2 separate regions of the Homo sapiens genome follow, and region 2 is linked to region 1. The links come from fine-mapping of genetic effects on gene expression. Tissue or cell type: lung. Region 1 holds a variant in brackets; the other region holds the start of a gene. All regions are shown on one strand. Distances are between the middles of the regions.

Evidence for each region.
Region 2: it holds the start of DKK2, and the variant in region 1 is fine-mapped to the expression of DKK2 in lung (TOPMed, PIP above 0.99).

The regions. Positions count from the first base shown.
Region 1 is chr4:107,123,103-107,138,949 of GRCh38, forward strand. It overlaps the pseudogene VN1R22P and the pseudogene VN1R23P. Among named protein-coding and RNA genes, the nearest start is that of DKK2, 95 kb to the left of the region's middle. The variant C/T (reference allele first, on the strand shown) is at 8,736.
Region 2 is chr4:107,029,376-107,045,222 of GRCh38, forward strand. It overlaps DKK2 (dickkopf Wnt signaling pathway inhibitor 2), which reads right to left and starts at 6,938. Exons shown (of 4, transcript NM_014421.3): 1 at 5,995-6,938. The coding sequence starts at 6,216.

The DNA.
Region 1 (15,847 bases):
TATGAATTTCCTTTAAAGAGACTATCTGATGGGATCAGGTATAATTTCCCCTTGCTAGTGGCATTGCTGTCCTGGGAGTTTAAACATCCACTTATCTTATTTTTAATCTTCACTAATTTGACTACCTTCATGAACATGACATAGATTAATGTCTATTTTCACAGTCACTTCTGGGCCCCTTTTCATAGATAAATGTTAACTTGATCATCAATGAGCCCTTATAATGTTGTTATCTGCCACTTCAGTTGCCTCATTTTGTTCTCTGACATTTGAACATTGAGCTTCTTCAAAATTATCAGTATTAGATACCTAATTCTGACCATTTCCATCTAGTTTTTCAATTCGACATAGACGTTTATGTGGAGGAATGAGTGTTAGACATTAATCATTTCAATTGATATTTATCGGGAATAAAGCATGTGCCCGACATTTTAATTGTTGCTGGGAATACTATTGAGAGCAAAACAGACAGGGTCTCTTCCAAGATTCTATTATTAAGCTTATAGGCCAATGGATGAAACATACTTTTATCACATAATCACAGAAATGGACAATTACTAGCTTTGATAAATGCTATAAAGGAAAAAGAAATGCAAGTAGCTATGAGAGAATGTAATTCATCTGGGGGTGAGGGTAGTGCTGTGTCGAAAAGAATGTGAACCAGGTTCAGACAAAGGTTGAACATGGGCGCACACTCAGCTATGTAAGACCCCGACCCCAAGTACACTTGTCATCTTTTTTTTTTTTTTTTTTTTGAGACGGAGTCTCGCTCTGTCGCCCAGGCTGGAGTGCTGTGGTGTGATCTCGGCTCACTGCAAGCTCCGCCTCCCAGATTCACGCCGTTCTTCTGCCTCAGTCTCCCAAGTAGCTGGGACTACAGGCGCCCGCCACCACGCCCAGCTAATCTTTTTGTATTTTTAGTAGAGACGGGGTTTCACCGTGTTAGCCAGGATGGTCTCAATCTCCTGACCTCGTGATCCGCCTGCCTGGGCCCCGCAAAGTGCTGGGATTACAGCCGTGAGCCACCGCGCCCGGCCCACTTGTCATCTTTCTTCTGGAAAGGAACTGGCCTGTTTATATGCCTATTCTTTCATGATTCAAACCCTGCTATGTTGCTAATCATGGTTGAGTTCCCTGACCAACTTTCTCTCTCATTAACTCTCTTCCCATTTGCTTTTATCCAAGACCAGGAGCTCCATGTTTATCAAATCAGTATGGTAACATATCTCTAGTGGTTCTTACAAAAATGGTTTTCACACTTTTCATCCTAGACAATACTTAATTTAAATAAATCATTTATAATGATAGCTCAGCAAAAAGGCGCAAGTCTTTTGACCTAAAAGGAATATATTTTTCCTAATATCTGGCTTACTGCCACTAATTTTGTCCTTATTAAACCAACTTGGTATGGAAATCTTCCCCTAAAATTTTTTGTAGTCCAGTCTTAAGCAAAGAATATATTCATATATCTTCTGGCAATTATGTAGAAATAATCTTTAATGTTTGATTTCTGTATATTGATTAAAAAACTTTACTTCCTCCTTATAGTGGGAAATTGTTTATAGTAATTATTTTTAAACCTATTTTCCCATGTTTCTTTTACAGAGTGACATGAAAGGAAAACTATTATTATACACTTACATTTTCATATATTTCTCCAGATAACCAGTCATGTTCCACTCTAGACCTAATTAGGCATAGTAGTGATTAAATCATAAGAAAAAGGAAATTCCTGTGTTCGAAATGTACCAAGGTAGATATTATAATAGACAGTATTTAAGCAACAATGCCCCCGCTAAAATATTTTTCTTTTCCCTCCATTGTATCCCCAATAGTTGCTAATTTCTTCTGTTTTTTTCTTGATCTATACTCCCTGATTTTCCATTCCTTTTCATTCTTCAGTCATCAACCCAATACAGCCTCTGCTCCCTCACACTTGAGACTCTTACAAGCGCCTCCCTTAACTGTTATCCTTCCTTCTTTCTCTTCCATTTTTAGTTATCTGGCAATGCCTCTGGATTAGTCTTTCAAATGCAGTGCTCTCCTGAGTGACTAATTATTGCCTCCAAGACAAATTATAATGTGATAACTAGTGATGTGAAGCCCTCTACATCTACCTATCACACATCTTTCCTGGTTTATTTTGCATTCTTTCTTAAGATCTACCAAGTTCCCAGCTCTGTGTTTAACACCTAGAAAGCACTGAATATATATCTGTGAATGAATGAATGAATGAATGAATGAATGAATGAATGAAAGTGTTCTGTTTCTTACATACTTTATCCATTCTACCAGCAACATCTTTACATTTCTTCTATATAGCCAAATCCTAAGCTGCGTATGGGCCTAATGTTGTAAAATTTATAGTGTTCTGTCTACAATGATGTCTCCTTTCTATGAACCCATGAGCTTCACTTCTTCTTTGGGAAATAAATTCCAGTAGATAAAAGACAGAAGTGATATCCACTAAATTTATTTAGCCTGGAATAATATAATATGTATTTAGCTGTTACAATACAAGCAACTAAAATCTGAAATCTGTTATAGGCTCAGAGTTATAGTAACATCACTGATGACCCAAATATCTCTTTTATGAGTCTATGACTCACCCTCTTGCCAAAAACTTTGGCCAAAAAATACAGAGAAAAAAATCGTTCGAAATTGCTTTCATCAAAAATGTAAATTATCTGCCTGGATTTGTGGGCATTGCAGCTTTCAAATAAAAGTGTGTAGGGATATAAGAAGAATGAGTTCAAAAGAATCTTTAGATGTGTGAAGAAATGTATACTCTATTCTTTTCCCCCACCCCCAAGGAAATAGTATGCAGCCAAATCTTTTTTTGTGGATAGACTGAGGGGCATGTAAGGGTTTTTTTGTGGATAGACTGGGGATCAGACATTTTAAGTTTGCTTGGGTTTTAAGTGAGCCATTCAACTCCTGGAGTGTCTCATTTTATAAAGATAATTATATCCTGCTCTTCACATTGAGCCTGGAAGGAGAGACACTTTACCTTCTGACCTGTGCCTCTCCGAGGTGTTCTGATGTTTGAATGGGGATGGGAATGCAAACTTACTCCAGCTTTCATGCTATACCATACAAAATAACTCTCCTCTCTATCAGGATTTAGAAAAATCTAACTTTTAAGCATAACAAACCCCCTTTTCCCGGTTATATAGTATAGGAATGACCAGGATGCCGTATGAGACATAGAGTAGTGGACACTTTCTTCCCACTCACAGCCATCTGAAGCATCGTTCAATATTATAACTAGCGTCACATCACCACTTGGATCAAAAGCCTCACATAGCTTCTCATTTGGGACATCACAGAAAGACTTTCTGTTTTTTTTTGTTTGTTTGTTTGTTTTTTTGAGACAGAGTCTTGCTCTGTCACCCAGGCTGCAGTGCAGTGGTGCGATCTCGGCTCACTGCAAGCTCTGCCTCCCGGGTTCAGGTCATTCTCCTGTCTCAGCCTCCTGAGTAGCTGGGAGTACAGGCGCCCACCACCACGCCTGGCTAATTTTTTGTATTTTTAGTAGAGACAGGTTTTCACCATGTTAGCCAGGATGGTCTTGATCTCCTGACCTCGTGATCCACCTGCCTTGGCCTCCCAAAGTGCTGGAATTACAGGCGTGAGCCACTGTGCCCGGCCACAGAAAGACTTCTTATAAGGTCAAATATTCAACTGTTCACAATGTGAATTCCGACCTACCTGTTCAGTCTCATCTCTCACTGCTTTCTCAGTTCATTGTACCAGACTATTTGCATTGCCCCAGGCACTGCATGTGTTTTATGACTGAGTTTTTCCCATACCATTTCCTCTAAGAATAGTGTCTTTTTCTTGACTGTTTTTGAGCCATTAAAGTGCTAAGCATCTTTCAAGTTTCAACCTAATTATCAAATCCTTTGCAAGGCCTTCTTTAATTCTGTTGTCTAAGTAATCACTCTTCCTCTACCTCCTGATATTTTACAAATACTTCTATTATGAAATCATGAGAAATACAATATTTTCTTTGGCCCACAGCAATTTGTAGCCTGTTTGTTCAAAGAGCGTGAGGCCACATCCTAACTGTTACAATGGCTCTAAAAGTTATAGGGTAAAGTCACTGACGTTTTGAAGCAAATATACCATTAGCACTAAATTTTCTTTCACTATTCTTTTTAAACTACTGATAGATTTGCATGACATAAAATTACCATGCCAAAATAACGCTAAATAATACTGAGCTTGTTGCAATTGTGACCTAAACTCATCACATCTATCTCTTTCTTATACTGCCACATCCATGTAGCCTGATTCTATCTCCTAAATTCAGTGGCTCAACCAGCCTTAAATGATATCTATGATATTATATGAGTATTATGAGATCACAAGGATGAATAAATATATTCACTGTTCATGTAGTTCATAGACAATCCAGGAAAAGAATATACATCTAATCCAATACGGTAAGTGCAATCATTGAATCAGAGAGTCCAGAGAGGGGAATGGTTAATTCTCTCTGATTTTGAAGATTAGGTAATGGTAAAAAATGAGAGTCAGGGAATATTTCACAGAAGGTAAGGTTCGAACTGGGAAATTTTCCAGGTGGCAATAGGATAAAAAAACATCCAAGTAGAAGGAATATCATGTACAAGGCTGCAGAGTTTAGTAGCAGCATGGGCTGTTATTCAGTGCCAGGGAAGCTTAGGAAGCAAGAATGGCACAGCAAGATGTAAGGCTGAAGGCATAGGCTGGAGCCACATCACAAGGGCCTGTTCACCAAGCCAAGGAATTCAGACTTTAACTTTCGATGCTATAGATATCAATCTAATGGTTCTAGGCAGGGGAGTTACATACTTGGCATTGTATTTGGATGATATTGAGGCCAGAGGAAGAGACACCAACCAGGAGGCCTTGACAGTAATCTAGAAAAAAATTGAAGAGTATCAAAATTTGAATAGAAACAAAGGGGAAGAGAGAAAGGAAAAACGTACTCATTTAAAGGTAGCAGTACAAGTTCTTAGAATTGGGCTGTTTGTGGGTAGTGCCAGGATGGCCAAGAGAAATCTAGCTTTTTAGTTCAAATGTCTGGTGGTGGCAGAAAAAGACCCTACATTCAGCAATGGACAAGCTGTGTTTGAGAAATCCGTATTCACCTTTGATGTGCTCATGCTGATCCCCCAAACGGCTTATTTTTAAAGCCATGCTGGGGGTGGGGTTAGAAATGATAAGAAGGAGTAGAAGGAAACAAGTCCACATAATCCCTTCATTCATTTGTTCTGATTCCAACATTCAAGCTTTTGGAATGATAGGTTTTGAAACCACCAAAATAAACATCTAATATAAAGATAAGGAATAGTTTGCCTTTTATAATCCTGAACATGCTTCTTTCTGGCTCCCAAATGGAAGTCTGTCCAGTCAGTGCTCCTTCTGTTGAAGGTGGAATAGGGAAGCTGCTATTTGTTAAATGTTAAATCTTACATAAATTGTGCCTTAATTTCTATAATAAACCTCCACAAATTGGTATTGTTATTCCAGTTTTACAGATGAGGAACCCAAATCTCAGAAAAGTTTGTAGACATTCTCATAGTCCCCCATCTGGTAAGCAGTAGAGACTAGGTGTAAATCTACATCTGTCTGATTTCAAAGTTCATGCTTCTTTCATTATACGATGTCAGATGTTGCGTATTTAAAGAATATTTTGGCTCCAGAAATCAGGATTAGGAAAAGTTGATTATGAGAAAACTAAAGAGCCACCCTGTCCCTTAAGCTATAATATACTCTAAAAATGATTCCTCTACAGAAGCATTTCTGTCAAGTGTTCACACTCAATTTCAGAAATGATCACACCTATCTTATTTCATTGAAGAAATCCTGATAATCTGCTGAAGCTAAACAAAAAAAAACTACAAATCAAATGATAAATGATCAATCAGAAAAATGTAATTGTTATGAAAAACCTCTTGCAAATTTTTATGAAGTTACATCCACCAGTTGAGAAGTACTCCACACACATTTTTTTAATTGGACTGCCAATCAGCCAATACTAACTTCCAGTGCTCCTCAACTCTGGCAATTCTCAGCCCTAAAAGAACTGGGATGACTAAAGAGGACATATTTCTCTTGGAATCCCTGTATTAAGAAATCAAAATGCCATTTAAATCAAGAATAAACCTACTTAATTGATAGATTACTATATTCCATGCCTTAATCAGGATTCTCTGTTCATACTAATTCTATCCAGCATAGCACATTGATAACTCACCTTTATTTCTGGGAAACTTCAAAGCAGCCTTCACATACATGGGAAGACGTGAGGGGTAAAATAACTGTTTGGACAAACGTTTGCATTCCCTTAATAGTTCTAACCTCACTACAAAACATATGTCAAAATTTTAAAGAGAACAGAAACTTTTAATGCTTTGTGCAATGTACACAGTTCCTGAGCTTTGATGTTTCTATTTCTGCCCTTTATTTGTACAAAATTGTCTGGTTAAAAAAAATCTTTTATGTCTCATTACTGACCTGTCAAACATTATTTTAACTTAAAGAATAGGTGATGCCTTGCAGTAAACCTTTAAAAGCCTCTTGTTTAAAAACAATATACCATTATACTGTACATATTTAATATGGTTATTTTTTATTACAAGGAACATGTCACTGAGAGAAACTTTAAACATAGGATTTTACATTGGAATGAATGTAGCCACATAAGAGTTCAGCCGCTGCTGTCTCTTGGGCTGATGCTGAGTGCCTGGTGTCTCAGGAAGTTCAGAGCCTTTGAAAACCTTAGGGAAGTCAAAGCCATCTCCACTCCCTTTCAGGCCTCACATTAACACCTCAAATTATTCTCTTTACACCATTTTATAACTTTCACAAATTTCAAGTAATCATTTAACTCCTGAATCATTTTTTTTTCTTCAGAATGAATTAAACATTTCTTTCAGGTACCATTTCTTTTGACTGCATAAAAATTACTCCCTCTCCACCAACACCACCAACTCCTACATTTTTTTTTCACTGTTTGGCAAGCATTGACTTGATTTCCCTTCCTTTCCCCCCAACTCCCCTTGCCAGTTTGGTACCCCTCCGGAACAGACTGTTTGAAGTGTTTCCCAACAGCCTCATTGAGGAGGAGGTAACAATGCACAGAAATGCTGTGTGACTTAGTGAGCTTCAAAGATCTGGACATCAGAGGGAAGGAAGTCGGGGATCTGCATAAAAGAGGTTTTCTTCATGATTACACTGAAAGGAATTGTTCTGGAGGAAGTGATACATGTTCCCATTCCTGGGGGTAGGGTTATACTGAAAGGCAGAAGGTAGCAGGAGATACTATAATTGGCCTCCCTTACAAGTGTTTAAAAGCCCCTGCATTATCATCAATGGCACTTTTTCCATTTATATCCTGCAATTGTTAGTCATTGTTTCTGAAAACACTGTAGTATTAGCCTTGTATTTTTTGCCATTATGCGAATTACTTCAAATGATGAGCAACCTGTAGACAGTTTTCAAAGTCAGTCTTGTATTATACCACAGAGGTATCCAATAGCGTCTGCTGAGATGATGCTGAATGAAGGTACTTGCTAAACAACTCTAAGTTTTTGAATGAAAGTGCAGTGATTTTTATTAGAAATCACTTTTCTTATTTTATTTTTAGGATTCTGAATAGAATATTCAAAAAGAGAATGTTTAATAACTGTGCCTATATTTGAGTCATTTTCTCTAGAAGACTTACTGGCTAAATTTCCCTAATTTTCTAACTGTCACAGTTCTTAAGATCTCAGGATAATATTCTCTTACACCCTCTAACTTTCTAACTTTGATAACACACATTTCCCAAAAAGAGAAATGTTAAATAAAATCAGGGTCATTGTCTGTGCTTGATCAGATCTGACAACCCCTTTAACTTCCAGCACCATGGAAGAAGCTTCCAAATCATTCTTGAATATGGTTTACTATTTAATTTTTGAAAATTTCATTTTGAATCTATATTTTTAAAGTTATTGCATTTTTTTTCAGATGAATGCTACAGTGCAAAGAATACAGTTTGAGAAATTTTAAAACCTGGGTTCTACTCCAGAATCTATTGGGTTACCTTGACCTCTCTTCCCTCAGGTCTCTCTTTTGTGAAATGAGAAGATTAGACTAAGTTTCTGAGATCTCATCAATCTAGGTTTAACATTTCAAAAATAGAAAAATAAGTAAATCCATTAAGTGAAGAACTAACCTCAGAGATGAGAGTAAAATCTAACATATATGCATATTATTGAAAATTTCTGAGGTTAGGCATTGAGTTATTCATTCACTAGTTCATTCATTAATTCACTTATTCTTTCATTCTTCTGTCATTTTTTGGATATCAGTCTACTTAAGCTCTGAGTCATAAATGTTATTTCTATTCCCAAAGAATTCACAGTGTTCTAATGAATCATCAGTCTCAGATTTTTTGCTTATATTCACTCCTTTGCCTTAGGTACTACAAATATATTTTTAAGCAATAGTGTTTTTTTTTTTTACTTCCTACTTGGTAAAAGAGGTTTTGATAAATAAAAACTGACTGATAAAGTAACATGAATTTTTAATATTTGAGACGCTAATTACACCCCTGAATTTTTTTTTATTTTTTATTTTTTAGAGAGACAGTCTCACTACGTTGTTGCCCAGGCTAATCTCGAACTTCTAGCTTCAAGCAATCCTCCCACCTCAGCATCCCAAAGCACTGGGATTATAAGTGTGAGCGACCATACCTAGCC[C/T]AATTAGTTAAATTTATGATTATTAAGTGTCAACTGGTTCTGACAAGGTGACTTATTATTCTTGCATTTTTCTGTTAGGCCTTTTTTTCCCCACCATAGGAAATTGTTTAGGATGTACTTCACATGCTAACAAATTTGATTATCTCTTGCTCCTTAATTATTGGGATTTAATTTAATCCATATTAATTTCAATTCCTCTCATGTTTATTTATTTCTCTTTCTCTAAATCTAGATACATTTTATAATACATCAAAATACTTGTTTCATTTTATTTTTAAATAAAATGGAGACAATATAGCATGTCATAAAATCCCCAGACAAGAACTCACTGACAATGGGAAGGTAGCAGTTAATGAGTTCAATCATCTTCTCTAAGTGACTGTAAGTGAAGCTGTTCTACTTTATACCTATCTTGGATGTGCTTTTGGGCAACAAAAGGAAATTGCTCAGAATGTAAAAACAGAAGTTAGTTTTATGAAAATAGCCGCAAGTTGATAGAATTGAAGATTTTAAGAAAAACTAGAGGAAAGTAGAATGTAGTATAAAAAACAGAGAACATTAATGACAATCATGGTTTCAATAGGTTTGAAAGATAACAGAAAAGATGTGCTAATATAGTGGTGACCTGTGAGTGGATAATCAGACTATCAGCAAATTGATAAAGCTGTACACAAAAACCAGAAGGTCTAAGAGCATGAAGACAACCCTCTCCACAGAGCCTGGTTGTTTCTGTTGTGGCGCTGTTGGTGTTGTTTGTATCCAGTACAGTGCACAAGCATAACTCCTGACATAATCAAAGCACAGTTTTGTTATTGTGTCCTGTGTCTCTTTAAAATATATTCAGTGGTGGTACCAAGAAATTGTCAGAACTAATAAACAAGTTCAGTAAAGTGGTTGGTTACAAAATCAACACACCAAAATCAGTTGCATTTCTATGTATTAACTAGAAACTATCTTAAATTTTTTAAAATATCATTTCCAATAGTTACCAAAAAATAAGAATACCTTGGAATAAACTTAACCAAGGAGCTGAAAGATCTCTACACCGAAAGCTATAAAACATTGATGAAGAAATTGAAGGAGATAAAAATAAGTGGAATGATATCCCATCTTCATGGATCAGAAGAATTAATATTGGTAAGAGGACCATACTACCCAAAGCAATCTCTAACATTCAATGTTACCCCTAAACCAGTAAAACTCTTAGAATAAAACAAAGGGGAAAAGCTTGTTGACATCTGTCTTGGCAATTATTTTTTGAATACGACACCAAAAGCATAGGCAACAAAAGCAAAAATAAACAAGCGGGACTCCATCAAACTAAAAACGCTCTGCACAGCAAATGAAATAATCAATAAAATGAAAAAAGCAACCTGCAGAATGGGAGGAAATATTTGCAAACCTTATATCTGATAAGAAGTTAATACCCAAAATATACAAGGAATTCATACAACTCAATAACACAGTAACAAATAAAACTATTTTTTTAAATGAGTAAAGAACTTGAGTGGATATTTTTCCAAAGGACACATATAAATGGCCAACAGGTACATGGGAAAATGCAAATTAACGCTACAAAAACTTACCAGCTGACACCTCTTAGAATGACTATTATCAAAAAGACAAGCAATAACAAGTGTTGGTAAAAACACAGAGAAATTCTTGTGCACTGTTGGTGGGAGTGTTTTTCATTTAATTATAAAAGACATTATAGAGGATCCTCAAAAATTTAACATAGAACTACCATAAGGTCCAGCAATCCTACTTCTGGGTATATACCCTAAAAAATAAAATCAGTATCTCAAAAAGATACCTGCACTCCTATGTTCATTGCAGCGTTATTAACAGTAACCAAGAGCCTACAATAGAAGTTATTTAGGCATAGATTTAATTATTTAATTATATATCCTCCTTGAGTCTTTCTCAGATCTGCAAAGCAGAGTTAATATAACCTCACTCTACTCCCAGAGCCCTTTATTTTTCCACTACAACATTTAACAGAGGTTGATTTTGTATTAACAGTTTTTTGGGCTTATGTCTCTCTTATGTTTCTTTTAGTCTCCATGCATGAACTAAAGTTTCCTAAAGTTCAGAAGATGTGGGCCATAAGTCAGGAAAATCAACTGTGTTTTATCAATTTTTTCCAGTACATTTAAGTGAATAAATCTCTTGCGTACTTGTTCAATGTAAGACTTTACTAGGTGGATTAGTCAGGGTGGGGTAGGTTACAGCACTGTAACAACAAAATCTCCAAATTTCTATAGTTTGACACACACAAGTTTATACATCACTCATACTATGTATATAACATAGATCAATTTAGATCTCTGTACCATCAGTGACTCAAGACACAGGATGACAAAGAACTTATCATCTGGAATATTGTTGGTGGCTTTTACGGAGGAAGAAAGAGTCTGAATCATACATGAGTTTTGTATTGCCTCAATTCAAAAGTTTCATGTAGGGATTGCTATTAAGGTGTTCTGGTGCTACTAAATCCTAAAATTCTACATTATAAAAAAAACAGTAACCAAGAAGTGAAAGCAACGTAAGTGCTCATCCATTTCCAATGAACCTTGAGGGCATTATGCTAAGTCAAATAAGTCAGACAGAGAAAGACAAATACTATGATCTCATATGCAGAATGTAAAAAAGTAAAACTCATAGAAATACAGAGTACAATGGTAATTGCCAGTGGCTGAGGCTGGGGAAAATGAGAAGATGCTGGACAAAGATACAAACTTTCAGTTATGAAAACGAAGTTATGGAGATCTCATGTACAGCATGATAACTATACTTAACAATACTATAGTCTATCCTTGAAATTTGCTAAAAGAGAACCTAAATGTTCTCACCACAAAGAAAAAGGGTAACTATGTGAGGTGACATATGTGTTAACAAACTTGATTGTCATAAGCATTTCACTATATATATATACATAGTGAAATATATACATACACACATATATATTAGAGAGAGAGACACATACACATATACGTCTCAAATCATCATGTTGTATACTTTATACAATTTTGTCAGTTATACCTCATTAATGCTGGGGGAATAAATAAACAAACAAACACTAATCTCTTCAATCAAAAAAATAAAAATAAAATGAATTTAATAGTGTTGATCTTCTCCTGACCCTGACGAGAACAAAAGAAATCATACATATTTTTAATGATGATGTTCAGTTAATAACATTCTTCAGGTCGATTTGCAAACAACTTCAATTTGGTAAGTAATTCCAAATCCCATGTAATATAAATCTAAACTTGGCAAAGTATTAAATATTCCTTTCTTCTCAGCTGGGTAGAACCTGTGAATTCTGCCATATAATGTGTCATTATTTTTTTCTTTGCTTTTCCCTTTTCTCCACCCACACTCACATGGACCCTCATTCCTGCCTCCTAAGAAATTGTTGTCCACTCCTCACAGACTCTCACTTTCAGAGTCCATCACCCTCACCTCTCAGGAAGAGTTAGAACCGCTCCTCTCTTGCATGGGTATTCCACATCTGGTTTAACGAGATCAGTTTACCCCACACTCAATAGAAGCATAGTTACTATCCAAACATAATGTGTTTCTATGCCTTTGTCTCTCTCTCCTTCTCTCTCTTTATCTCTATCTCTATTTCTGTTTCAGTAAGGCATGAATTAGGCATCTTCTAATGATGCCTTTTAATCATAGGGAACATATTTGAAGCATTTGAATGATCCCATGGAATTACTTCAATAGACTTCAGGTGAAGAAGGTAACACTCTAACCTGTCCTCCTTTGGGATTAAAGGGGACTGACAACTAGCAGCAGCACTCTGAAATGTCTTATGGTATAGCTCATGACAAAACTACAGACTCAGTCTATGCAGCATTATTATCATTCCCTGATGTTTTCTGTTCAGGGTTCATGCTCTGCGCCAGAAGCTTCATGGATGTATCCTGCACAGGCACAAGCGGCAGGTCCAATATATTACTAAGACTGACGTTTCTCCTAGATCCTCTCTTGAATCCGGAGCTGCCCAAAGCATCCATGTCCTGGCCAGCACCTTTGTATCTGTTTATACCCTCTCCTCTGTCTTTGGCTCTTTCAAATAATTCTACTTGGCTACTGGTAAGCCTCTCTGAAGTAACTGATGCATGTTTCCTAATGCTTAGACCCTTTATTTTTATGCACTATGATTCTAGGGTATTAAAGCTCTGCTTTTCCCACATAAAATTTCTTAAAAACCCTTCATATTATCAGAAAAATTTAAATTGTATGTTATTTAACAATATTCAATTGTTAACTTACTCATTTACCATAGATTCACAGAATTATAAGCACAATTATATAACAGTAACATTACAAAAGAATGGTGGTATATGTGCACAGTGTATGTACTTGTATGTGTATAAATGTGTGTATATCTATCGAAAATCAGATTATATTTATTATCCATCAAATAATATTAAAAAGTAAACATTAAAAAATGCAAAAATAACACTAATTACAACAATTACAACCTTCTTTAAACTTAAATTTTATTTTATCTGATACCAAGTATTTTATCTGATACCATTTATCTTTATTTTATCTGATACTTTATTTTATCTGATACATTTAAGGCCATCCCAGTTGATTAATTGGTTAAATTACACAAAATGTATTTTTTTATTTTTCTACTTTAACCCTCATGTTTTAGTTATGTTTGTTGGAAAAAATGTCTAATTTAATATAGTTGAATAATGCTTGACTTTAACAGGAACAACTAGTCTATTTGTGTTTAAAATAGTAATGGATATATTTGAAATTAAATTTAAGATTGTTCTTTGTGACAACTGTACTATTTTCTTTTCTTTCTTTCTTTCTTTCTTTTTCTTTTTTGGCGAGAGTGTGTCACTCTGTTGCCCAGGCTGGAGAGCAGGAGAGCAGTGGCATGATCTTGGCTCACTGCGACCTCTGCTTCCAGGGTCAAGCAATCCTCCCACCTCAGCCTTCCGAGTAGCTGGGACTATAAGTGCCCCACCATGCCCAGCTAATTTTTGTATTTTTGGGTAGAAACAGGGTTTCACCATGTTGGCCAGGCTGGTCTCAAACTCCTGACCTCAAATGATCTACCTGCCTCGGCCTCCAAAAGTGCTGGGATTATAGGTGTGAGCCACTGTGTCTGGCCTCCTATTTTCTTACTTTGTCATGAACTATACTATAACAGTTCATATATATATATATATATATATATATATATATATATATATATATATATATATTTGGTGATGCTTGTGTTAGCCCACTTGCCAACCACACAAAGAAGAAAAATGGTAATTATCAGCATGATCAGACTCCAGCACAGCATGGTGGATAATCCAGTGTACTTGGGAGTTTTCACTTTAAGCTCTGCCCACCTAGAATCACTGGGGCTCATAGTGATGGCCTAGAAAACACTCAAGAAGTCTTCTCTGATTTCAAATATACTCTATGATAAGAAGATTATTCCTATTGCCAAATCTCTGGAGGCCTTTCTGTTTACCAAGACTGATACTTGTGTTCAGAGCCAGAGGATCTTGCATAGAAATAGGATGCACAGCTGAATTTATCATTTCAGCTGAAATCCAATATTATCTACTTACAATTAGTTCCCTCTCAGGTATCTTTAAGGTAGTTTTTAAATATTATTAAGAGATTTCCAAGAGTTAAATATATAACATTTAGAGGAAACATACAAAATATGAATCACTGCTATGAAGAGCATACGTGAGGTAATGCTTTTGTTCTTCACAAATCTATGAGACACACACTACTATTACTTTCATTATAAAGAGAAGGGTAACTTACACAGAGAGACTAAATGAATTGTCGCCATTCACAATCTGGCTATGGTCACAGTGGGGGCTTGGAATTGCCTGGGTTGGTAGCAAAGACAGTGTATTTAGCCACGAGGCAATTTTGAAAAGTTGATTAGTTATGTTCTTCAATCAGATCTATATTTATTTGTGTTTTTATACCTTGTCATTTCATTTTGGATTGGTGGCATTATATTTTCCTTTATATTATTTGTTGTAATAAATTTCCATTTATGTGCATTTATTCTATAAATCAGTATCAATTATGAATAAAGCTTCATATAACTTAAGAAAAAGAAATGTCTTCTTTTTTACATCCTATTTTATACTCCTCAAGGGTTTTAAAGCTATCTAACTGGTTCTGGGTCATCTATTTGGAAATTTCTTCTTCATATCATTTAACTTTGAGGTCTGCCCACCTGGAATTTCTGGGACTCATAGTGATGGTCTGGAAGACACTCAAGAGGCAGAGACATGTTAGAAATCCACATCTATTGTGCCTGTATTACTTAGTCAAAAATATGAATTTTAACATCCAGTTACAAAGTCACGAACAGGGCTTCTGTCCTTGAAAGTCTGCTCTTTTGGATCAGTCAGTTTACACGTTGGGAACAGTGTTTATTAATGGTTGTAGACCAAGGTTGGCAAACTCAAGATTTTTTAACAGAGAACATGAATAAATGGCCCTGGCCAGGTGGGAACTGCAGTATACCAGAGAAAATGTGCCTGTTCAACGGGATAGATGTCACTTGGCTATTGTGAGGGCAGTGAGATCAGAGTTAAAAATGTTGACAATCCATGTTTTCATGTCAAGTCTCCATATTTTTTAATGTGGGCTGTTAATGTTTTAAGAACTTTGTTCAAACTGCACACTAAAAGATTAACGGGCTAGATTTATATAAAAGTATATCAGTTTGTGATTTTTACAACAGGCAGTGTCCTCATCTGAGTTCAAGGGTCATTCACATACCTGTGCTTGCTGACAAGGAGCTCAGGTGAGAGTAGGGAAAGCTGATCAACTGAAACTCACTCTGCCTGAAAATAGAGCTAAGAGTAGAAACATGGTATGCTCTTCATGTACAAATAATATAAACAGGGAACTCAGTGCTAATATGGGAGAGTGGGATGGTGGATAAATATACTTTTGTTGTTCATAATGTGAGCTATTTTTTACCTTTCTTGTGCATTTACAAACAACCAGATGAATAAAACAAGTATAGCAGGTTCCCTTTAATCACTCTAATCCTGGACTAAGCACACTCCTCTTCCTGCTTTGCTTAAATTGTTCAAGTG
Region 2 (15,847 bases), 94 kb before region 1:
TCAGGAATGTCTTTTTTATTAAATGTTTCATCATTTATAAAAATAAGGATGATACTAGGATTTGCTTCAAAAGGCTGCCTAGAGGATCAAAAGAGTTAACGCAATTGACGATTTAGTTTCATGCCTGGCATAGAGTGAATAATCAATTAATGGTACCCTTTATTATAAGTTATTGTGTGCCGTAAGTTCTTGCAAGCTAGTTTAAGGAAATAATATACCTGAAGATCGCTCACTTCTTCTATTTCCCTGAAGAAAGAACAATCTTATTCCGGATAATAAAGTATAACATGAAGATCTAATGTCTCTTGGGAAAGGTTTGGACAGAACTACCACTTTGAGAAGTCATTTTCCCTAATTGTGATATTTTTATTTGTTTTGTCATTTAATGTACTTATTTGCTCATTGATTTTTTAAAATTGTAGATTTGTTCTTTTTTTGCTCTAGATTATTTTGTTTTAAATTAGATACTGCAAAGTATTTAAAAGGATATCTGATGTCCATTTGTCCCTTTTGACTCTGTGGAAAAAGATAAGTAACATTTTTTTAAAAATTGACTACTTTTGTATTTTTGCTGATTTTATTTCTGAATTTATATTTAAAGCACATAGAAAAATCTAAACTATTATTCAGGTTCCCAAAATATAATCTGTTGTGCAGATTCAGGGGTTGTGGAATACATGTTAGAGTAGCAATTCTGTTGTTAGTGATACATAAACTAATTACTTCTATTAAAAAAAATTTAACAGGATATTGCAATCTTTCTGCTTTAAAGTTTTCTTTGATTAAATTTGCCATTACAAAGAAAAGAACCTACCAAATGCTGTATCGACTGACTTCTTTGAAAGAATGCTTTATGTTTGTCCTAACACTACAATTAGAGAAAAATATGTTATTCTGCTCTAGTTCCTGTCAAGAGTGGACAGAGGAGGAACAGAAAATTGACCTTTGCTTACCTTAAATAGTAATACTAAATTTTTCTTATGCATTCTATATTAAATCTTTCTGTGTAATCTTAAAGCGATGCTACATAATGCAATATGTCTATCAATTATGATTAGCCTTACTTCCTTTTGGTTTATGCTTTTGGACTGTTAAAAAAAGGACGTAGTAAGGGGCTCAGGCAGACACAAATATCACATAAACCTTTTGAACAATCAGATAAATAACTAAAAACGGGTTTATCTCCTTGTTATAAGTGAGCACAAGTGACTAGAGGCATAAGGAAGTAAAACAACTCCAACAGGCCGTCAGAAAGTCACAGGTAGAAATTTGATTGTAATTGATTTTGCTGTTAATTCAATACTAAAGAATAAACAGCCATTAGAGACTGAGTCTAAAATGGTAAATATGTTAACTATTATAAATTTCTTCTAAAATGTAACCGATTATTTTAATGTACATTTAAAGCAATTTTGTAAGGAAATGAAGAAGAGCCAATATTTTCCTAGATCAGAATATACTAGCTATAGTTCTATGACATTGCCTTACCTAATCTTAAAATTATAAGTTTCAAAATATCTTGGAAAGGAGAAGAGGGTGCAAAAGTTTGTATTGTAGAAGAATATTCAAGAAGATTATGACAGGGTCAGAGTCACAGCTGGAGTAAGTTTGAGCAACTTTGTCCTCTTGCGCTCTCTAGTCTAACACAAAAATAAAATGATGGATGTTCATATTAGATTATCATTAAAATACTTTTCTTGCTATTCAAGAACTAACTTTCCACTTGTATCAACTATCAATTTTCTATAATTCATGGTGAGAGGAAAGGAACGTTAATGTAGATTATTTCAAATTCCTTTATTTTTTAAAATTTAATCGTAAAAATGATTTGCTTTCCTGATTGTGTTTAGTGTTAGTCAATGTCCAGAGAGGCTATCAGATTATTTACTCCTAAGCAGGAGAAAGTTGGGCTGAGGTTAGAAAAAAAAGTCATGGATAATTTCAGAAAGTAAAGAGATCCCTTACCGAATATTAGAGTATATAGTTTATTTCAGTGAGCACTTTCATGAATGTTTGTGCATACAGATACAGCACACTTTCATTAAAGAAAATGCAGTCTACAAATATTAGTGCTCTTTAGTCAACTCGTTCAAGCTTCTCTTTCAATGAATTTCAAGAATTCTTTTCTCACAACATAACTTCATCCAAACCACTATCCTTGAAGTGTCCCAGTCATATCAGAAAATCATAGAATCTGAATTTGTGTTAAACCATAGCTTCTTTTTAGAAACACATGCCAGAAAGTTTATCTACATTTAAAATATAACTATAAATATCACTATTCTAGTCACTTTTAAAAGAATTGCAAAATGCTACTGCATTGCATTCAAATTAAATTCATCTGCCCGTCTCAGAAAGACAAAACGAGAAGAATAAAATAAGCAATTACAAACACAAATCCAAAGGTTTTTCATTCACACAGAAAAATATGTGAATTGCAAAGCTTGATTTTTTTAGTAGTTTGGGTTTTTAAAATTTGTTTTGAAGGTGGTCCATAAAAGTCAACACCTCAAACTTTAGAGATAGTATCGAGAAATGGCATACTTCATCAAAATATATTTATTCACATGATATTGAAGATTTTGTTTGAAATTACTTTTAATTTAGAACATCTGAAACAGTATCCTTAGAAATTGACATATATATTAAAATGCATAAATATTTATATATTATGTAAATATACTAGTAACAGTCTGAAACTTAATTTAGCCTGTATACATATACAGCACATACATGCAGTACTTATTAGCAATAGCTGCAAATGAAAAGGCAAATTAAAACATTGATGCGAATAATTCAGCAGTTCATTTTTTGCTAATTCTGTATCAATCATCTGAATACTATCACTCTCAATTTCCTATGTCAGTTTCCATTATAACTCATACTGTGTTTTTGAAAGCCAACCTTAAATTGAGAAATGTAACACCTCTGGAGAACAGTGGATTTTCTCTCTCTAAATTTTTTCTAAAATTCAAAGCCACATTTTCTAGAAGTGATATTACAAATAATCCACCTTGCCTATGGAACAAGTAGAATTCCTGTAAATAAGAATGTTTATCTTTATATGAAATCAGGCAACTTTCAATAAAACTATAGAGCTCATATAGTCTCATTTTCACTTTTGTAGATTAACGAATTACTAAATTTATTCAAGAATTTCTTCTGCAGTGGCAATATTTAATTCTCTATCCTGAAAAATTAAAATAGGCTATTTTCAACATCCATTTAAGAGAAAGAACACCAAGGACTGAGTTTCCAATCTGCCTACTTGAAGCTGCATCCTAGAGCTTCTTCCTCCTGTATCCCTGAAAGGAATATATTTCAACATCATCTGTCAAGTATAAAGGGAATTGGGGGAAATAAAACTTATTAGGTCTTAGGATGATACTACATGATTAGCTAATTTGATTAGTTGACACATTAATTCCAATATTTTCAATCATATTTACTATTGTGATGCATAAAAATTCAGCTCAGCTACCTTTCTATTCTAGAGTTTTTCTCTACAAAAGGAAATAACATCTTCCCTGTAATAGCCTTTCTAATTTCCATTTCATTTCTGAAAATAATAATACTAAGAATGTTGGTGACCACATAACTATAGAATAAAAAAGATAAAGAGACTCATAAGTATCCAAAGAATTATTCTTTTCACTTCAAAGAGAAAATATTTTACTATTTGTTTCTTCATAACAGTACATACTTTAGATCATTCGTTAAAGAAGAATACACAAAATAAAATTTTCACATTTGCCAGCTAGCCTCCTGCTATTCAACCCAGTATTTTATTTTGTTTTACCTTCATCTTGAATATGTTAACAATTTTTTTCACAAGCCTAATGTCAAATTTTAACAATCTAGGATTCCAGTTAAGTAAATATAATAAAATATATTCCATAGAACTGCTATGTTATGAAAGGCATATAAGAAATTCAACTCATTTGTGAAATAAATAAATAAATTCTCAATTTAAGGCGATGTAAGTAGACTTCCAAACTCTTTAAGAAGCATAATTAAGTAGCTATTTGGAGAGGTAGCACCACAAAAACATATTTTATACCGATTTATATACAGATACAGTATTAAAACATAAAGAAGAAGCTAGGTTCTGGGATGCATCCCTCAGTCTCCCCTGTGTAACGCTAAGGCTAATGAAACGACGCATGTAACTGATTTTCTGACAGAGGAACATCAGGTATGTTGGCCCAATAGTGGAACAGAAACAAAAAGCGCTTTACAAAAATTCCCAGAAAATACATAGATTAGAATGGAAAGGAACCTCAGGACTATTGAGGTTTCCTTCCCTGTGTCCTTGGGGGAACTACACATTAAGCTTTCTTCAACTGGGAACATGAAATTTGAAGTCAGTAGCATTAGAGGAGTCATGATTTGGATTGAGAGCACCCATTCTTTCTAATCCCTGTTCCATTTCATGACAGACTTCTAAGAAACTGTTAGGACCATTGCTATTGAAAATCCTGGGGTGACTCGCAGGAGAGAAAAAGCGAAGGAAAGTGGTCACATAAGCGCGTAGGCATGTGCACGTGTGTGAGGATGTGCAACGGTTATGTTTGCCTGAACGTATATGTACTTTCTTATTTTTCCTGAGACCTTAAAAAAAATCTGATTGCTGATTTTGTAATCCCTTGAAAGGATAGCTGAAACGGTTCACACTTCAAAGCTCTGGGAAGAGTTCTGGAACTGCAAAACTAGCAAAACTGCAAAATTGTCCCCGTGAGAGGGCAGTAGGGGGCCAAGCCCGGGTCTTGTCTCTCTGTCCATCCCAGAATGGCTCGGCCCTCTCAACCAACCTTCAGCCGGCTGGCTGCGCTGTGGACAGGGGCGGCGGAGGACACCGAGAGCGCGCAAAACAGCAGCATCAGTCGGTTCCAAGGAAACTCGGATCTCTGGGGCGTGGGCCGCTGCCAGGGGTTGACACTTGTGTTGTGCGAGGTGCGTGTGCCATTGGTAAAATGGCTTTCTCAGTTTTGGCTTCCCACAAAAGGAGCGGAAGGGGGAGCTGTCATGATTCCCAGTGCCCACAGAGCCCCCTCTCCTGGCCACAGCGCGCCAGCCACAACTGGTACCGAGTGTGCGCGCTCGTCTCTGTGCGTGTCTATTTGTATAACAGTTTGCAAGTGGCTTTCAATCTATCTGTCTGTATGACAGAGACAGAGGCGCCTGCGGAAAGTTCCCTCTCTCAAAAACGCCTTCAGTGTCCTGCTGTATCGCTGGCGCCTACGACGCTGTCATTGTCATCTCATCATTTTGCTTCCTTCCGGGTGATTTATGTACAATTCTGCGTGAGTGAGAAATGCGCGTCTACTGGAGTTGTTTTGTCTGTGACCTTACTTCTTTGAAGAGAGTAAGTGGTTGGAAGGGAAGGAGACCCTGAAAAGGAGTAATGTCCCCTCCAGATTGTAAAATATAATGGTTAAACGCCCAGTATCTCAATGTCTAGACTGAAATCCCTCTCTGCCACTTATACTAGCTGTGTGCCTTGGGCAAATCGTTAATCAATCCGTGCCTCAATTACTTCATTAGCAGAATGGGAAAGCAACAGCATCTAGCTCACAGAGTTGTGAAGATTAAATGAGTGAATATGTAAAACGCTTAGAACTGTGCCTGGCACGTTATTAGGTGCTATAGGTTAAATGCTATTAACATCTTCATCAGTTGCATCACAGTGTTAAATGGAAGGACCATCCTGACCACTTTCTCCACAGGAAAGCACTAGATCTTGATATGTGCCCACGCCCCAGAGCAAAGGCGAGACAGAATCCTAACCCTTTGACTCCGTGCAGTGCAGGACCAGCAGCCACCCAGACACCCCCCGCCCACGCAGACCCTGTTCGGTGAATCCCTCCCCAGCCGCCTGTTCTCTGTATCTGGGGCCACGCTCCGAATGTTGCAAGATGCAATGGCAAACCGCTAGCCCAAGAGAGCTGGCCCCTGCCTCTTCTGTCTGAAGAATGTGTTTGGGGGTTTTCCTACCTGCCCCAGGTTTTTGCCCTTCTTACTGCCGCCGAATGCCAGTCCTTGGTACATGCCCGCAGATCGATTGGCGGCCTGACCAGGCGTCTCCCCGCCCAGAGAGGACTTGATGGAGTTGAGTTTGGCCCGCGAACTGCCGATCTGTGAGCTCTCCACCATCAGCACCGCGGCCAGTAGGAGCAGGCAGCAGGACGAATCCTTGCTCCGCATCAACGCGGCCATCTCCCGGCGAGGGGGTCCCCAGGAAGACGCAAAGCCCGGAGGGGTGGGAATGCAAAGGGAGGGAGGACCCCAACACGGGGCCCCTCACTTGGGTCGCGGGGGCTTGCAGATTGTGTTCCCTCAACCCTTCCTGGTTCGGGGACCCAGGACCCTATGAACTCAGTCTCACGCCTCAGGACAGAAATTAGCGGAACCCAAGCGAGACCCGCTTCTCCACCAGGACAGGAAGTTCTGCAATAACTGGAAGCAATCAAATGCGAGGCGCTTTCTCGCCAAGGAGGCGTGACCCAAGGTGCAAGAAAACCCAGCCCTGTGGATCGCACCGCTTCCGTTCCTTCTTGCCCCGCACCTCCTTGGTCCCGCCGGGATCTCGGCGGTTTAACTCTCCTCTTAATTGATCAGGAGGCCCGCATCAGCTCCTTCTCCTTCAACTCAGTTGCTTTTCTCTCCTCTCTTTTCCTATCCTTTATGTGTCAAACTTTGCAGGACACAGTGCTCCTTTTCAAAGTTAGCAGGCGCTTTAGTAGGGGATCAGGAGACGTCCCCGGACCGAATCCTCGAGATCTGAAGAGAATCGAGGTCCCCCACACGCGCACTCACAGTTGCCCCGAAGCGTTGTCCCCTGACTCACAAGAGACAGCGAATCGCTGCCAGCGCAGCGATGCCTAGGGAGCGGACTTGCGCTACGCTCGCCGCGGGCTCCCGCTTTCTCTCTCTCTGCTCTCTCCCCAGTCCTCTTTGCTTTTTATAGCTTCCCACAGTGAGGACTTTTTTTTTTTTTTTACCTCCGCCCCCAATTCAAGAGTGACAAAGAGTGAAAATTTTTCTCTCACTCCCCACCGCTTCCGCCCCCCTCCTCTCTGCGTGCTGCTTCTGCTTCTGCGGCTTTCACTCCAGCTTTTCCTCCTCCTCATCCTCCCGCTCTGTCTCCACCCACAACTACTGGAAAAGGGGGATCTAGCTTTTCCATGAGGTGAATGGAACATAGGGGCTCCTAATTCCTGACAACAACTCCAGCGGTTGGAGGGGTCTTTGGAAACTGGCAGAGACCAAAGGTGGAAACGGAGTGGGGCAAGCTGACACCACTTGATCGCTGCCACCCTTTCTTAGATCTTCCCACCCATCTTCAGCCCCTGACTCCGCGAGGAGAGCTGGAAAAGCCCTATGGAAGCTTTAGAGAAGTGAGCATCTGCGCATCTGCTCATTAGTATTGTGTTCTTTGTGAGCTCACGTTTGGTTTTAGACTGTGCCTCCCAGGGAGTGTGTGAAGCTGGAGCCACATAGGTGCGCCAGGGGGTGGCCAATGATCCGGATAGAGGGTCTGGAAGGAAAGGGGCAGACCAAAGAGGGGAAAAGATGAGCCTGTTCGATTTGGGTCTTTTTAGTCTCCTCCTTCGGAACCCCGGGCCCCGCCGCACTCGTAGAATATGTCTATGTCTCTGAGGGACTGGGAAGAAGGGGATGCTCTGGGTACGCTCCAAGGGTTTGGACCTCACAGCTCGAATGAGCATCTTTACCATGCCAGGCAACTGCTCTTTTTGCGAATAGGAAATCCCAGATAGGAATGAACGGGGGCAGGGAGCCTTTGAGATCCTGTCTTCCTTGGCTTCCTGCCTTCTAGCCCCAGTGAATTACAAGAGAAGCCATTCCTGTCAGCCCCCGGGTCTCTCCAGGTCCAATTCCCTTCGGCCGAAGGTCGAAGGCTGCTCCGGGAACGACTGGGACGCGCTGGCGCTTGGGGGCGCCAGTGGCAGCCGTTCAGCGAGCCACGGAATTGCTGCAGGAGACAAGCGCTGAGTTCGGTGATGTCTGGTGGCCAAGTGCGAGACTTTCCAAGCAAAGCAAGGGATTGTTCGAAAGTTATTGCATTTCTGCTTCGCAGACACTAATGTCCAGGAGCAGAGAAATCCAAGCATTGAGCCACAACTTGAAGTTAGAAGGCAGCTAGCCGCCAGGGGAGGATACAAGCAGCATCCTCTTCAGAATTTTTGGACCTAGATTTCACAGCTTTCACACCTGATCCTGGCGCATGTCCATGAGTACGAATTAAACTTGTCGCTAAGTGAGAACGTTGGTGACTCTTATTTTCCCCCAAAACAACGCAGAGTTCTAAAGTGTGGATTTAGAGCTATTTTCTCCCAGACAGCTCCAGTTTTGCAAATTTCTCAGTCCTGACCTATGAGTCTGTCTGCCCTGAAATTCTTCATTTTCAGATTTTTTTTTTAATACACAAGGAAACGGGGATTAAAATATGCACCCTCTGGCATGTGTTCTTATCTTTTGAATTTCCTTTCTTTAAGGTAGAGATTTTTCACATTTTAGTGTGTGGGGTTTTTTTTCCACTTTTTAAAAATATGCCAGGAATAACAATATGGGTGACCCCTGAAGGACATCATACTAAGTGAACTCGACCAATCACAGAAAGACAAATCCACTTATAGGAGGTACCTAAAATAGTTAAATGCATAGAATCAAAGGTTGGAATGATGGTTACCAGGAATTGGAAGGAGAGGAGAATGGGGAGTTACTATATCAATGATCATAAAGTTTCAGTTAACTAAGATGAATAAACTCTAGAGATTTGTCATATGGTATTGTACCTATAGCCAACAATAATGCATTGTATTTTTAAAAACTTATTGAGAAGGTAGATCTCATGCTATATAGATATAAATTTTATATGTGTGTGACTTTATATACATGTATAATATATATATGTATTTATACATATAACATGATTGTAGTAAGAACATTTAACATCTATATATGCCCAGTAATAAATTTGTAAGTTTATAAAGTTAAGTGAGGCATTCTAGGCACTAATAAAAGGCAAGGAAATGGGTCGTTACTCTATAAATAAGTACTTAACGATTCCAAGCTTAGACTTTACAGAAGAGTATATCTTTTGCCTTCATTCTGATTTGCCAATCAGAAAGCATGACAGAAATTGAGAAACTTAAGTTAGGAGTATACTGGTTTAAATATTTTTGAAAAGTAGCTTAGAGCAAAAGGAAAAGATAGAAGCTAAACATGTAGGCAACAGATCACTCTACATTCACTTGGAAGGGTGTAGACTTTGACCATATGTTGAAGAACAAACCCAAATGAACCATGAGAAAATGTGAAGATGCTTTGCCTATTTCTGTCACTTCCTTCTTTCTTTACCTCTAAATAAAATAATATCCCACATACACAGGCCTAACTTTACTCACATGTACTGCTAAACAGAAAACATATATCAAGCACAACACATTTACTCTCAGCTCTGAGTACCATCCTAAACACATTATCTCAGAGGCTTATTCAAACCCCGCAAGTTCCAAAAGCAATTTTTTACAAATACAGTTAAATTAAAAGTCGACATAAAATCTACTTACACAAACATTCTTCCATATAGAACAAAATCAGACATATAGAATCAAAAGCTAAAACATACACAATTACGCCTTAGGCTAAAAAGCAGTCAAAAACTAATTTCATTCATGACCCAAATGCTTTGTGTAAATTTTTTTTGACAGACAGAAACAAACATACATGACCCATATGTTGACAAGTAGATATGCACACACAAAATCAACTAACTGTAAATAAACATAATCCTGTGGATTACTGTCATGGCCCCATATGTGTTTTTCCTGTGTGTGTTTTCCTAAGTGTAAAGACAAAAGCTTCATATTTTACTTGGGAAAGTAGATTTTTATGCCATTTGCAATAATATAATTAGAGAGTAGATATTTAAAAACAAGACTGTACAAAAGCAGGATGTACAACCTTCCTGTCCAGAAGAAAGTGCCTTAATGGACATTTTTTCCTTTGGCCATACATTCCCTCTTATCTTTGCTCCTCTAGCTGTGGGGCCATTTTGGTTCCATAGAAAAGCCACTACTTTCTCAGCAGTTGTTTCTGGATCCTGGATTCCTTCTGAATACTTAATCCCAAAGGTAAGTTAAGTATATAACTTGTTACCTTAGTCTTGTTTACTGAAGCTTACTAATTTTCATCCCATTACCTCTCTCCCTGCATTAGTGAATATTTCCTACAATAGCCTTTTTAGCAGTTGTTCATGCATTCCCCGTACGTGAAGCAAGTATGGGGCCCTGAGGACACAGAGGTGAATGAATGGGGGTCTTGCCTCTAAAGGGGCTTGGAGCTCTGTAGACACCTTAATATACTAAAATCTGCTCCTAGCCCCTCTCAGAAGTTGCTGCTGTGAGCCTTTATTCTCATCCACTGCTGAATTATGCCAGTCTCAGAGTTCAATCTGTCACAGGATAGCTGCAACTTGAATTCAAGCCAAGCTGGCTTGAATTCATGTGACTATGGGAATATAAGTGATCAGATATGTCCCCCAGAGTTCTTTTTTTCCTTCAGAATTAAATGCACATTTTAATGGTGTACATAGAGACAATACTTCTACATTTGTCGTTGAACCCAAAGAAATGACCCTAGTGATGGTCATGTTAGGTCAATAAGAACAGAATAGCAAACCTGGGAAGTAAGATTGTCTTTGGTAGGTCCCACAGGACCGCAAAGCATCTTGCACACACAGAATAGACATGAAAATCTTTAATGTATGGTTGAAACTTGATGGATGTTAAGGATCTGAAAAATAAGGTTATATGGGTTTTCCCTCTCCATAGTAAACCAAGCTACCTGGCTCTGTAGCCTAGTAATACTCATACTTTGAGAGTTTTATGTTTCTCCTCTGCCTAAGAACAACAGTCTTATGTGTTGCTGCAAATTAATTCTAAATACCTGGTAACAAATGTAAGCTTGCATTGATATTGTGAAAATTTTTTGTGTTTCTTGATGGGAATAATTTTCATACCAGATATGAAAAAATTGCATCTCCTATTTGATCCCTGCATTAGTTTCAGTTGTTGATGCTATCTTGATAAGGTCTCATGGACAACAGGACCAGCTAATAAAAAAGATCTCATCACCTACATTTGATTCACTAGCTATGCTTACAAAAACATGCACAAGTGAAATGGGTCAGAAGATTTCACAGTAAATCAATCTGAAACAATTGCTCAGCCAACGGCTTCTTTTTCGAACCTTAACGAGTTAGTCATCTTATCCATACTTCACCTGCCACTTAAATGAAAGAGGATTACTGAACAGATATTACCCCTTGAGCCTGAACCCAAACAATAAAAAAAATGCAAATAACATAATCTGAAACTCAGGCAGATAAAAACTTCTGCTGAGCCTTGTGCATATATGTGACCATAGATGGAGGTGGAATTAGAAAAAGTCATCAAATGTTTAATAAGAAACATTTTCCTTTACGATATAAAATTTTTGTTAGTTCTGTACAATGCATATCCTTTTTGGTAAGTTCTCACTGCTGAGTTCTGGCAGGTTTTTTCAAGATTCAGCTTTTGAATCAGTACTAAAGTACCAAGTAATACTTGGCAGTGAAAGAATCATATGTTTAATTCTTGAGTGAGGTTCAATTCCAAGGAATCTCATCTTGATGAGCAACAAAACAAACAACATTTAGATAATCTGGACCAGTGATTTTCAGACTCTGTTCCTTTCGGGTCTCTAGGGTTCTGCAGTGGTCTCAAAGTAAGTTGAGAACTGTGCTAATTTTTATAATATTTCAGAGGAGAGGTGTCCAGCTCTTGGATCAAAGATAAATTTTAAGTGCCTGTTTTTGTTATTGTTTTATTGGACAAAATACTCTGTGAGCCGTCAACCCACCAAATACATGATGGATTGATTTCTACCCTGTTAGTATTACAGACAATTTCCAAAATGAACATTACTCAAATGGGGAAACTATTAAAAATATGGCAATTTATTTAGTCAGAAATGATTTGGTCATTTAAAGTAGGGAACATTAAAAATGAAAAGGCAGGGTAGCTAATCCATTCATTGTACAATGTGTTTATTCCTGATCAATTATCTGAACCTATGATTAATGAATATGGCAAAACTTTAACTATACTCTTACCACACATAAAATAAACTGTGGTGCAGACTAAAAATAATGGAAAAACTACTTGCAAATAATAAAGACATAGATTCTCAAGAGGCAACTCAAAAATCTGTCTTTGAAACATAACTGGGCTTGGTAACAGAAAATGAAAAATGTGCTTAGTTTATCTTTGGAAGATTCATTTGTAATAGATCCTACTTTTTGATGCTCTAGGTATAAATCATAATACCTAGGCTCAAAAATAGTTTGGGATATAAGAAAGTCAAGACACTATGCTGCAGTCAGCTTAAGGAATTTTATAGGTAACTGGCTTAGAATATACAGCAATAATAAAAGTAATAATAATAGTCAGATTTATTGAATGCCTTACATGTGCCAGGTTTGTTGAACACTTTACATATAGTGTCTCTTATTTGTATCCCACAATTCATCCCTTTAAGACAATGAATGTACAGTCCAATATTAAAATAATACTGAGCAAAGAGTAGCTTGCAGCACAGTGTGTCTCCATTTGTAGTAACGAATGCCCAGTTATGGCAATAATGTGGAAGGCACACAAGAAAAGGGGAACCCATCAGAAGAAATTGGAGGTGCCATTTCACCCTTGTAGCAGGCCCCAACACAGATTCCTCTGAAGGAGCTAAAATAAGTCATTTGGTAAACGGTTGCAAAGAACACCAAAAATATAAGTACATGACTACATGTATTGAAGCTTTGCCTAATATAGTAAAACTCTTGGGCCTTAAAAATCATATAGCAGAGAACTTAAAAAGGCCCTCTGCTACAGATGGCATATTAGATTTCTAGGGATTCCATAACAAAATGATACAGATTTAGTGGCTGAAACAACAGAAATGCATTTCCTTACCATTTAGGAGGCCACAAGTCTAAGATCGAGGTGTTGGTAGGTTTGGGCTCCTCTGAGGCTGCTCTCCTTGTCTCACAGATCACCACTTTCTCACCGTGTCCTCCTGTGGTCATCCCTACGTCTGTGTTCAAATTTCCTCTTCTTATAAAGAAACCAGTCATATTGGATTAGGACCTACCCTAATTTCATTTTAATTTAATTGCCTCTTTAAAGAACTCATCTCCAAATGTGGTTACATTTTGAAGTAGTAGGACTTAGGGCTTCAACATATGAACTTGGCAGCAGGGCGTGGGGCAAAATTCAGCTCATAACAGATAGATTTATACATGTAGTTGCATATTAAAACACTTGGGAAAAGAGTAACATTTCTGTACACAAGACATACAGCAGTTTCTCAGAGTTCCTAAACTCAAAGGAGAACTGTGTTATATGTTTATTTTGAAAACATTATTTAAATATTTTTATTACCATTTTATTTCTGGATCTGTGTTAATGATATTCATTTTTTCACCTTCTCTTTTTGTGTGACTTATGGCTAAATTAGAAATCAGCCAACTGAGTCTGACTGTGATTGTCAATATTCCACTGGGGCCCTGAAAAGGAAAAGAGAGAATGCAAGCAATTTGCCAAGAAGATAAAGTCATTTCTACATTTTTTATAAATGCCTGGTTAATGAAAGATGGAAACAATAAAACATATCAGTACATGATAGAAAAGTGAAATCATGGTAGATCAAAGGAAAAGGAAGCAGCAAACAAAACTACAGTGATCTAGCAATCAGCAAGTTGTTCTGTTACTAACTTAATTTGTCCATTTATTTAATTTGATTTGTTTAATTTACTCAGAAAGTTAATAGTTCCTTGGAATCACAGTACCTTTAATTAATTCAAGGCAGTGCTAAATATGTGAAAACAGAGGGGATATCTAATTTCATTGAAACTGGTAATGAAATCACTTTTAATATAAGTGCACTTGACCACTTAGTCTTTAAGTTATTAAGAAATCTGATTTGGAATAAGCTCAAATTTACTTTAGCTTTTTGTTGTTTTTTTCTGAAATTTATAAAATGTATTTTGGTTGTTATTGTCAAGAATGTATGTGAACATTTGTATATATCAAAGAACAATCAATATCTCCAAGAACATAACAGCTGTTTATATGTTACAGTTGAAATTGTTGGGTTAGCCTTGTCCTCCAATGCCAATCAATGTTGTATTTTTAAATTAATAATAAAATGAAACTCTCAAACCTTTGATCAATTTGCCTTTTATATATCAAAATGTATTGTATAAATATGCTCAGTATTAACAGAAGTACTGAAAGTTTAAAACCATCTTTTTGTTTTATAATATTCAATGTACCTCACCCCACCACTTAACACTGGAGGTAGCTACCACTGAGGCCAGGAATATATGGACTATAGCTATAAACTGGGGCTCTTTTTAACATGAAAAGGTAAGCTAATTTCCAGCCTTCTAAATACAACTTCCAAATTCACTAAATTACTTCGTGTTCCTCCTATATGTTAGCATAATTTTAGAAGGTAATTCATTAGAAAAGCCCCCAGCTGCAAGTTCTAACCAAAAGTTATACATGTTATAGTCCAAACTCTTCATTCTCTTTAGCCAAGTGTAGATACTGCCTAAGATGGCTGATTTTAAATTAATTTGTATGATGATATCTGTCACTCACTTGTGAAACACTTCCTGAATATAGCTGACACAATCATACCCAATTTTCTGTTTCAGGGACTATTTAATGTTAAAAATGTCTCTAAGGAAATCATTCTAAGGAATGCCTCTAAGTAAATCTTTATATGTGGGGGATGGAAAAGACAACCCATCATGGTATTATTCTCTGACAACAAAAGAATTCCTGTTAATGGTTAGTAATGGTTATTATTGTTTGTTTTAAGTAGTGATCTTATAGTGATTATTAGTCGGAAATACTGAGAGGTCCAAGTTCATGCAGCAGAGGGCAGTAATGGACACTTGTCATGGTAAGAGAGATGAGCCAGAGATTATTACAAAGTAATTTTTCTGGAGAAAAGTGTTTAATGGCCTTTCCTATACCAGTGTTATTAAATAGAGGAGAACTGATAAATAAATGCATCTATTCCTCTCATGAAAAGTTTGCAACACTCTTCAAATATTAGATTGACTGAACTAAAAAAACATTCAGAAGGTTTTCTCTTATCTAACTTCATAGAAAAGGAACGATTTTCCTATGCCAAGGCATATGCAGATGTTGCCCATGTAGCATTGTAAAAGCTCTTCCAAACTACTCAGAAACAGAGGCAGGTAGGCAACTTTGTAAATGGTCTCATGACTGTGCAGAATGCATTGGAAATTAACAGCACCTTTTTCATCTTACTTACTACCACTTTATTATCTGTCTTTCTCTCACTACCTGAAAAAAATGCAACAAAATCCAAGGACTTCCATCTTTACCTTCCTTTAGTTGCTGTACTGCCTACTACGCTAACGATGTTAGCAATGTTTTGTCTTTGTTCTTTCAAAAATTACTTCAGCAAGCTGTTTCTTTCTTCAATCACATTATCCCGAATTTACACCTTGTTCCACCGCTTGAAATAAACCATCAAATAAAGCAGACCCAAAACAATGGTAGGAGGTGAGGATGTTATTCAAAATTTTCATAGGTAAAAATTTGAAGGTAGAATCTGGGAATACATGATGGCATAGTTTTTCTAACTCATGCGGTGCTATGTAAAACCAGAAAAAGAGATGAGGATAACAATTCCCCAAAATGCACATACGAGCACACACCACACACACACACACACACACACACACACA